2 separate regions of the Homo sapiens genome follow, and region 1 is linked to region 2. Evidence: fine-mapped expression QTL. A gene starts in region 2. The other region holds a variant in brackets. All regions are shown on one strand. Distances are from middle to middle.

Region 1 (5,308 bases), 98 kb after region 2:
CATCCTCCCTAAGGCAGGCAGGGTAGAGATGACCCCCTCCAGCACCTTTATGCTGAGGAGGCCAGAGTGGGAAAGGCTGGCTGTACTCCCAGCTCTTTGCTGCCCGCGAAGTGTTCCAGGGCTCTCCTGGAGAAGGCCAAATATGATGGGGGCTGTGATGATGTGGGGCTGCCTCTTGCTGAGCTTAGCTCTGTGGGAGAGCCTGAAGGGCCTGTGGCTTTGGGCTAAAGCACATCCCTTTGCCAAAGCCTGCCCAAGTTGGCTTCCTTAAGGAGACCCTTGTCCCATAGCCGCAGGAAACTCTTCCTTGCGTCTAGTGCAGTTCCCTTCAGCCCCCTTCCTCTGCCTCCTTTCTAGGCAGTCCCAGAAGCTCTCACTTGGCACCTGTGACCAGCCACTGCTACTCTTCCCCCACCACCCTCAGCCTGTTTGCCTGGCTCCTTCCTGGTTCTTGACTCTCTCTGACCCTTGGAAAGTTTTCTCTTGTTTGCACTGGTCCCCAGGAAGGCCAGGGCTTCTGTACTCCCTCCTCTGAGAGCTTCCAGCAGGACTGTTGAAGGGGGTTTCTAGGTGAGGGGAAGTTAGGTGTGAGCTGAGGTCCTGGGCTTCTGTGTCAAGCATCCTCCTGGGATGGAGGGGCAGAGAGGAAGCCATTGCTTACTGAACACAGACTGTGTCAGGCCCCACACTAAGCACATTTTCCCTCTCTAATGGACTCCTTTGACAACTCTGCACAGTAGTAGGTATTATTCAGATCTTACAGTTGAGAAGTGGTTGGCTTAAGGTCAGCGCTAGATTCAAACCCACATCCAGATGTTCTTCTCATGCCCCGAGCGCCCATCCCCTTTATCCCAGGTCAGGCTGCTTAGTGCAGGGGTTGAGGGAGTATCATTGGCCATCTCACCCCTCCCCCACCACAGCATTTCACAGGAGTGATGCCTCTGCCTTTGTCCTTGCCCACCTTGACGGGTCAGGGCAACTGCCTTCAGAGCCTCATTCTGGTCCCAAGCCCAGGAGGAGCCCACTGGTGATGTAGAAAGTACACGGGGCTGGGTCCCTCCAGCCTGTGCGGTGCAGCTAGGAGGTAGTAGGGTTTCTGATTGTATGACAAATTTACCCCCACTCTGCTTGTGTGATGAAATTTCCCCCACGAATTTTCCCCTACCCTCAATGCCCCATTTGTAAAAGACATGATCGTTTTGATAGTTTTTCAAATTGAGTTTTGCCAGTGAAAACTTTTCCTGATAAAAACAGCTAGCCGGAATTGAGCACTAGCTCTGGGTCATGAGCTGCCTCAAATACTTCCTCCCTCACTTCTCCCATTCTACGAGTGGCAGAGAAGACCTGGGCCATTTTAGCAAGGGCTGAGATCAGGACTCACACTCAGGCCAGCTGCCTATGCCCCAGGCTGGTGATGTTGGGAGCTCAGGGTCAACGAGAGGAGAGTGGGGATTCTTGACCAAAACAAAGAGGGAGCCATTTGAGCAGCTCCCATCTTCCTTCAGAGTTCTGCTGAGATTTCTCCCCTCTAGGCTGGCGGTATCCTGCCACATGGCTGCTGAAACCAACATACCTGCGTGAAAGTGCCCAGGCCACACCTCTGGGCACATTCTGGTTCATCTCATGAGCTACCTTCCCTGTGGCTGCAGCTGAGCCGCACACAGTGCAATGCCCTCCCTGGTGACAGACTATGGGGTTCACCCAACTTGTAATGGTTCCTTTTCCTTTTTTTTTTTTTTTTTCCTGAAACAGAGTCTCGGTCTGTCGCCCCGGCTGGAGTGCAGTGGCACGATCTTAGCTTACTGCAACCTCCACCTCCTGGGTTCAAGCGATTCTCGTGCCTCAGCCTCCCAAGTAGCTAGGATTACAGGCGCCCACCACCATGCCTGGCTAATTTTTTGTATTTTTAGTAGAGACGGGGTTTCACCATGTTGGCCAGGCTGGTCTCGAACTCCTGACCTT[A/T]AGTGATCTGCCCTTCTCGGCTCCCCAGAGTGCTGGGATTACAGGTGTGAGCCAGCGTGCCCGCCTATAGGGTTCCATTTTGATTCAGAAGATAGTTATGAGGGTCTGGAATTCCATGGCAAACCTCAGGAATGCCTGTGTTGTCACCAGGGATGTGGGACCCTGCCATCACCTGGTGTTAGCATATCTAATTGCAGGCACCTCCTCTCCCCGCACCATAGGATTGGCATGGTAGCAACAGTAGGAAAAGTCCTTTTTTTTTTTTTGAGACAGAGTTTTGCTCTTGTCACCCGGCTGGAGGGCAATGGCACGATCTTGGCTCACTGCAACTCTGCTTCCCGGGTTCAAATGATTCTCCTGCCTTAGCCTCCCGAGTCGCTAGGATTACAGGCGCCCGCCACCACACCCAGCTAATTTTTGTATTTTTAGTAGACACGGGGTTTCACCATGTTGGCCAGGCTGGTCTCAAACTCCTGAACTCAGGTGATCCACCCGCCTCGGCCTCCCAAAGTGCTGGGATTACAGGCGTGAGCCACCTTGCCCGGCGAAAGTCCTCTTTTCTCCCTGTTTCTGCTCTTGCTGCTGTGTGCACTGAGGGCCCACCACGCATTGGCAGAGGGGCTGGGCTAGGGGAGCTGCCTGGGTGGCTGCATGGGCTCAGCTGTCCTTTTGATTTTCAGATTCGTCTGCGGTGCCAAAAGGGCATCCCGCCTTCTCTGCGGGGCCGTGCTTGGCAGTACCTGTCAGGAGGCAAGGTGAAGTTACAGCAGAACCCTGGAAAGTTTGACGTAAGTTTCCCTTCCTTTGCCCTGCCCTCCCTTCCGCATCTCTTGGCGTCCTCCCCATGGCGGCAATCCTCCATGTGCTCACCTGAACCTCACAGGATGAGCAGTCCATGAAACCTCCAGTCATGTGCCCAACTGCCCAGGCCCCAGCAGGCCAGACCGGCCCAGTCCTGGGTACCTGTGTCTCCTGGAGGGTCTGTACAACTGAGGCTCCAGCCCTGAGCAGCCCTCAGTGGAATGGCCAGATTTGGTACCCCCTATTCCAGCTCTTTCTCTTGATGACCACTCAGGTTTTGCTTTCCTGGGCTCAGTAGGCTACCTCCCTGCTCTTGGTCATCAGGAGGGGACACTCAGACCATTTCCCTGACTGCCTTGGGCCCTGTGCCCTGGGCCTATGGGGGCTTGACTAGCAGGACCACAGGTCCTTCAGTGTCTCCCGGCCTCCCATCCTCTACTTTCTCCTGCCTTGTCCAAGCCTGGCCAGCACAGCCCACCTGTGTGTCTTGTGGGGTCATCAGCCCTAGGAGTAGCAGAGCCAAACCCAAGGGGGCTGAAGGGAACTGCCCAAGTAGCTCAAGGGGTCAGACGCCAGTCAGTGGCCAGAGAGGGTGCCCTCTGTTGTTATCCCTCCTCCTGTCCCGATATCCCTCCTGCTGCTCCCTGCCCCATGGCTGGCCAGAGTAAAATACCTCTCCATTCAGAGCTGGGCAGCTCCTCCAGCCTGCTCCCCCAGGGAACTATGGGGAAGCAGTTGGATTCCCTGGGGTTGCCCCGGCTTACCTGCCAGATCTGGCCGCAGGCATCGGGGTTTCTCGCAGGCCCTTGGGACTGGTGACAGGCAGACAGTGAGACAGAGCAGAGCTGCCTACCACCAGCTCTTTGTTGACATATCTCATGCTTCTTCATTGAACACTCCAGTCTTGCCAAACCTGTTCCTTGAGATGACTGGGCAGGAGCAGGGCAAGGTAGCCTAGAGTTTCTGCTGTTGACCTGGAGAGGGCGAGAGCTTTTTGCTGGCAACACGTGGACTTGCAGGGGCAGGGAAGCTGGTAGAGTGTCTGGCTGGGGTAGGTCTGAATCTGGCTGATTGGATTATTCCCCAGAGCACCAATACCAGGCCACACTGGAGCAGCCTCTTGACTCCAGAGTCTTCCTCCTAGTGGCTACATCTCTTCCATTTCGAGGGGCCGCATCCTGGGCAAAGTGGGAGGCTCAGGGGTGGGAACCTCAGTCCAAGTCCATAGTTAAAATCAGGCTGCCAGAGCCAGGCATGAGAGCCAAGAGCGTGGGCAGCCTGGTCAGCCTCTTGGCTGTGTGGTTCAGCAAGCATGAGTGTGTGTGCAGCAGAACACAGAGCTGTGTGCATGTGTGTGTAGAGCTGTGCTTCCAGAGAAGAATCAGCCACCCCCCAGGGGGTCTGGAAAGTTGCTTGTGTGAGGAGGTGGATTTGCAGAGAAGGCCTTCTTGATGCACCGAAGCTGAGTGACGGGTTCCTGCATGGTTCTGGGGGCTGGAAGAATGGTTTGTGAGCACACCTGGAAAGACTTTGCCTGTGGGTGACCCAGAGGAAGCATGAGGAGCTTCCCCTGGTTGCTGCGGGTCCTGTGCCGAGGCAGGGCACAGTGGGGGTCTGGTGATGGCAGCATGCACCTGTTTCTGTGCTCTCTCCCCACAGGGCCCTCCATTCAATACCCAGTCCAGGTGGCCCATCCCAACCTCAGCATTCAGGGCAGGCTCTGCAGGTGCTGGTGGCTCCTTCTCCTGCACGTGCTATTTCTTCCTCCTTCCTTGGGCAGGCAGGACCTCCTGTCCTTTTTTACCTGGCTTTCTTCTCTGGCTTCACCTTATGATGGCGCCAGTACCCCTCAGGCTGGTGGAGGCTACAGGCCCCATGACCATGGTACCTGCTTGTCTGCCGGTGCCCTTTCGATCTGCAGCTACCCTCTTTTCCTTTCTCACCAACCATGTGTGGCCAAGTGCCTTAGGCTGCTGAAGTGCCAGATGAACACATCCTAGGAACTGACTTCCGGGGTTTTCGGGTTCCTACCTCATGGGAACTGCTAGGAGAATTTGTGGGGCCCTCTTCCCCATTCTGACAAAAGCAAACCTGCACTGCGCTCAGACAGTACTTAGAGGTGCACAGTACACAGACCCCCATCACAAGGGTGTGTGGGGCCCCAGAGGCACGCATCCACCGCTCCGCTATGTGCCTGCTCTAGGGCTCTGTGTGGAGGCCCCAGCCCCTCCCTGTCCCCTCCAGCCCTGAACACTCTGTCAGCCGCTCCTCTCAGTCCTTACCCTCTAGTCAAGTTCCTGGCACCCTAGGTTCTTGAGCTTAATGCTAGGACACTCCCACTGAGGGCCAGAGAGGGAAAGGGGCTTGTATGAAGTCACCTGCTCGTCAGGGCAGGGCCTGTGTCTGCGCCCACTGGGTATGTTTGCTGAGGACCTGGCCTCCCTCCTGAGGGCCTTCCCTGATGCTGCCCCTGCCCTGCAGGCAACTTGTACTTAAACCAACACTCCCATGAAGGTGCCTGGGCCACACCTTTCAGCACATTCTG
Region 2 (5,364 bases):
GGTTGAGCTTATGTCATTGCCAAGGGCCCTTTGGCGCTAAAGGTTGGACACTCTAGATGCCTCAATTGCCAAGGGCAGGGTTTTCAGAGGGTGCTATTCTGTTGCCCAGAACAAGCCCCTGCCCCAGCCTCCCGCAGCCCCTCTTCCCTCACCTCGGAGCCAACGCAGGAGAAAATAGTCATCTGGATTCGGCAGGGCCGGCAGCACATCCTGGACATTCTCCCGAAACTGTAGGGAGAGGCATCGGGGTGAGTGGTAGGGCCCGCCCTGACTGCTGCCCTCTGCCTAGGACTCTCCACTGAGATCTTTGCTGGACGCCTCTTTCTTTGTTTCTTTTTTTTTTTTTTTTTTTTTTTTGAGATAGAGTCTCGCACTCTCGCCCAGGCTGGAGTGCGGTGGGCGATCTCCACTCCCTGTAAGCTCTGCCTCCCGGGTTCACACCATTCTCCTGACTCAGCCTCCCAAGTAGCTGGGACTACAGGGGCCTGCCAACACGCCTGGCTATTTTTTGTATTTTTAGTAGAGACAGGGTTTCACCGTGTTAGCCAGGGTAGTCTTGATCTCCTGACCTCGTCCTGATCCGCCCATCTCGGTCTAAAGTGCTGGGATTACAGGCATGAACCCCCACGCCCGGCCAACTGGACTTCTCTTTAACATAGTTCAACTCTGCAGACACTCCCTGGGCACTCATGCTGCCTGGAGCACTGTCTTGTCAGGGGGTGCCAGGTTGCAGGGCAGGAAGTGGGAAGGGAGTGAGACACTGCCCCTGCCCCACAACAAGGGCTCCCACACACCAGTCTGCGGGCAGGCAGATGTGTTCCCAGCTAATCGTGATAGTAGGCACTCTGATACGGACTGCAGTAAAAGCTGTCAGTTTACCAAGCATTTCCTGTCGCTCAGCGCTGATCTTGGCACCATAGCTTATTTACTCCTCACTCACAACCCGTAGAAGTATTGTCCCCATTCTACAGATGAAGGAATTAAAGCTCAGAGAGGCTAAGTAACATGCCCAAGGTCAAACAGCTAGTCATTAGCAGAGTTGGGATGCAAACCCGGGTCTGTCTGAGTCCAGAGCACACACTCTTTCCACCATGGTCTTCTGCCCCATGGAAGGATGAGGAGTTTGCTGGGGAGCAGAGGGAAGAAAGAGGTGGTCTCACACGGCTTCCTATAAAACATGGCATTTGTGCTGGGCTTGAAGGACTTCAAAGGCAGCGGGGGAGAGAGGTGGGCAACTCAGGTGGAGGGAACAGTTCCAGTAGGGGAAGCCAGGAAGCGGGAAAGTGCAGGTAGTGCCAAACAAAGGAGGTGGACAGTGACCTCAATGGACAGCCACACCTACCTCCAACCTCTCACTCCCTGGTAGGCGAACAGGCCCCTATATGCCCTCCCTGAGCCTCCTGCTCCCAGCCATTCACCTTTCCCTGACCACTGACCTAGAGGGCAGTCCCAGAGGACACTAATGAGGACTGGCCACCTCTGCCCCTTGCCTAGGTCAGCCAGGGACTCAGACCATCCCACCCCACAAAGCAGCTCCCAGTGCACCAGGGAAACTGCTCCTCCAAACTGCAGGCATGAAGCTACCCCTCTCCAAGGACCCTAACCAGCCCCTGGTCTCCAGTTTAATCACCACCTAATCCCTTCTCTGCCTGACCTCTCCTGCGAGTCAGCAGTAAAATCTGAAGCCTCCCTGTCCAGCCTTCCTGGGATGGGGGAGGCCCAGCCTGGGACAGAGGCTTTATGGAGCTGGTGCCTCCCCACTGCTGCCAGTGGCAGGATACATCTGCCCCCCGCCCCACCTTTCCCAGCCATGGAAAACTCCCCAGCTGTGGAGCCTCCAAATCTTGGGGCCAGACCCTATCGGCTCTTGCCCAGAGAAGAGCCGACCTCCTCACTCCCCAGGGGTGACAGATAAGAGATTTAGTTCGTGAAGAGGAAGGTCCCGCCCTCAAACTGTTGCCCCCTCCTTGTCACAGATGCCAAGGCAAAGCCAGGCTCACCTTCTTGCCTTCTGAGGAGCATAAACCTTAAGTCCTGAACCAGGCAGGGGTCTGGGATGCAAGATAGGGGACGGCTGGTCTCAGCTCAAACTAACACCAACCCAGTGCCTCATGGGGGGAGCCTGGAATTCACACACGGAGGTGTTCCCTTCAACATCATCTGGTCCAACCTCCTCATTCCATGGCATCGAGGAGCAAAGAGAAGGGCAGGGTTTTGCCCAAGGTCGCACAGCGGCTTGGTGCCGGGGCAGGAGCTATCCAAGTCTCCCAAGGAGCTATCCAGAGCCCTTTCCATCGTGCCACTGACCCTACAAGAAGAAAGCCTCCCGGAAATGGGAGGAAACTTGGGCCCCTGCCCCTGCCCCTGCCCCAGGGCCCGGCTGCCAGTCCCGAGGATGAATGTTGCCTTTGTGCCCTCAGCGGCCTCCGGGGACTCACAAGCAACCACTTGTCCCCAGGTGGCACCGCCACGGCTGCTCAGAGCTTGGGCGGGGGGTGGCCAAACTTCCTGGGACCTCGAGGGTGGCAAAGGGAGGAAGGAGCCATCCGCGGGCGCGGGCCAGGCTGGGACAGCCGCCTCTGTTCCCTCCGCCGCCCGCCACGGACCCTCGGCCCCCACCCAGCCCCGTCCCTTCTCGCTGCCGCAGGAGGGCGAGGGCCACAGCCCGAGGCGGGAGCCCGGGCCAGGGCTACAGCTCACCTTGGCCAATGCCTCCTTCTGCCTGGGGCTCAGATCGCCGACTCTGCCGCTCATCGTGGCTCAACCGCGGGGATGGGGTTTGGGGGCGGGAGGCGGCGGGTGCGGCAGCTGATGGAGCACAGACTCGTCCTCGCCGCCACCCGGAGTAAAGTCCCAGCCTTTTGCCCGGGCCGCGGAGCTGGCAGCCAAGCCCCGCCTCTTAAAGGATCCCGAGAGGCGGAGTAGGGAGCGATGCGCTGGGGCGCGGAAGGCTCTGACACGGGCCCCCTCCGCCCTCCTGAAGTCAGAGACCCAGGCAGGAGGCGAGCAAGTGTGCCCACTGGGACTGAGGCCAGTGGGCATCAGAAGGGCAGGGAGTCTCAGTTTTAGTTCCAAATTTATCCTTACCTCATTGTGTGACCTTGGAAGAGACACCTGAGCTCTCTGGGCCTCTGAACAAGGAGGGATTGAAAGGTGCTATCTAATGAGCTCTTCTAACCAGGCTCGCATAGTGCAGGACAGCACAGCATCCTGCACACAGGGATTGTTTTTGCATTGTTTTTTTTTTGAAACGGAGACTCGCTCTGTCACCCAGGCTGGAGTGCAGTGTCACGACCTCGGCTCACTGCAACCTTCGCCTCCCGGGTTCAAGCTATTCTCCTGCCTCGGCCTCCCGAGTAGCTGGGATTACAGGTGCACGCCACCATGCCAAGCTAATTTTTGTATTTTTAGTACAGATGGGGTTTCACCATGTTGGCCAGGCGGGTGTCGAACTCCTGACCTCAAGTGATCCGCCTCGGCCTCTCAAAGTGCTAGGATTACAAATGTGAGCCACGGTGCCCAGCCTACAGGGATTATTAATAAATGTATCCTGAATGAATGAATGAATGTAAGAACTGCTCCAATAGAGACACAGATCCCGGGGCTGGCAGAACCCTGAGAGGGAGAGAGAAACATAGATCATTCAGGGATCATGCAACTTACCTCGTTTAACAGCTAGGGAAACTGAGGCCCAGATAAGGCATGGCTTGCCCAAAGTTGTTAGTGGCATGACATATGTGGAGTGCCCACTGCCTGGCACATGGAAAGTGCTCAGCTGTGCCCTCCCCTTATGGCCTGGAATTAATGCAGAGCTAGGTCCAGGAGTCTGTGGGCATCTCGTCTCCCAGAGCCATACTTCTGCCCCCTCAACACTCAAGTCTCTGGGAGAGACAAAGCAGAATGTCCCCAGTCTCTCTCCTTACCTGGAGGCAAAGGCACCAGGCCTGTTAAAGACATTTAAGGACTTTGCTCTGCCCTTGGTGTGGCCCCCTCCATAGACGCCTGCTGCAGGGTGCAGAGTGAGGGTTGAGGCCCCCAACGCCCACCTCTACAGAGAGTTTTCAGGCAGTTCTGCCCTAGTTAGGCTCGCTGGCTTCTGGCCTGGGGCAGGACAGGGCTGCCTTCCTTACTGGATACATGGCTAAGATCTTTATATAAGACCCTTCCAGGGCCAGGATATTCTTTCCAGGCTAGAGCCTACTCAAAGGAAACTATTATAGAAGAACAGCATCTTGGCCGGGCGCGGTGGCTCACACCTATAATCCCAGCACTTTGGGAGGCCAAGGCAGGCAGATCACCTGAGGTCAGGAGTTTGAGACTAGCCTGGCCAACATGGTGAAACCCCGTCTCTACTAAAAATACAAACATTAGCTAGGCGTGGTGGTGTGCATCTGTAGTCCCAGCTACTCAGGAGGCTGAGGTGGGAGAATTGCTTGAACCTGGGAGGCAGAGGATGCAGCGAGCTGAGATCACACCATTGTACTCCAGTCTGGGGCGACAGAGCAAGACTCCCTCTAAAAAAAAAAAACAAACAAACAAAAAATAAAAACAAGAAGCACAGCCTCTTATATTGGTTCAGCAACTTAGAGCTCACAAGGTACCTTCAGATCTAGCTTGTCACTTAAGTGTGGGACAATCCTCTAAGGTAGGCAGGTCAGGTGACTTATTGAGGAGCCTGAGGGAGAGGTGGTCATAGGTGGGCACGTGCAGAGTTGGGACTTAAACCCAAGTTTGTGGTTTCTAGGCCGTATGCTCCCAGGCCAAGGTGTGGACGGGCCTGGGAACTGCCTGCGAAAGTTACCCACGAAAGTACAAGATCACCTTCACCCAGCAGGATACAGCCCTCCCCGCATCTGAAGTTACCCAAATAAAAGCCTCGGTAAAGAACCCTTCCCCAGGCCTGCCCTTCCCAGGTTCAACAGCTGCCTCTTTCTTCTTCCTCCACTGAGACTTAACCTACTTCTGGCCCACCATAAAACAGCTAGTTAATTTGATCATATAAATCCTAAATAGGCCCAGGCTCGGTTGCTCACACCCGTAATCCCAGCACTTCGGGAGGCTGAAGTGGGTGAATCACCTGAGGTCAGGAGTTCAAGACCAGCCTGGCCAACATGGTGAACCTCGTATCTACTAAACATACCAAAAAAAAAAAAATTAGCCAGGCATGGTGGCACACACCTGTAGTCCCAGCTACTTGGGAGCCTGAGGCAGGAGAATCGCTTGAACCCAGGAGGTGGAGGCTGCAGTGACCCAAGATGGCACCATTGCATTCCAGCCTGGGCGACAAAGCAAGGCTCTGTCTCAAAAAAAAAAAAAAAAAAAAAAAAAACCTAGCCAGGCACAGTGGCTCACGCCTGTAATCCC

Evidence for each region. PIP is the estimated chance that this variant, and not a neighbour inherited with it, causes the effect.
Region 1: its variant is the best candidate, but not a certain one, in a credible set for the expression of SEC14L2 in whole blood (INTERVAL, PIP 0.72).

Annotation. Positions count from the first base shown.
Region 1 is chr22:30,296,886-30,302,193 of GRCh38, reverse strand. It overlaps TBC1D10A (TBC1 domain family member 10A), which reads left to right. Exons shown (of 9, transcript NM_031937.3): 3 at 2,643-2,750. Among named protein-coding and RNA genes, the nearest start is that of CASTOR1, 10 kb to the right of the region's middle. The variant A/T (reference allele first, on the strand shown) is at 1,963.
Region 2 is chr22:30,394,507-30,399,870 of GRCh38, reverse strand. It overlaps SEC14L2 (SEC14 like lipid binding 2), which reads right to left and starts at 2,853. Exons shown (of 12, transcript NM_012429.5): 1 at 2,701-2,853; 2 at 153-228. The coding sequence starts at 2,754. RefSeq lists silencers at 2,461-2,520, 2,541-2,610.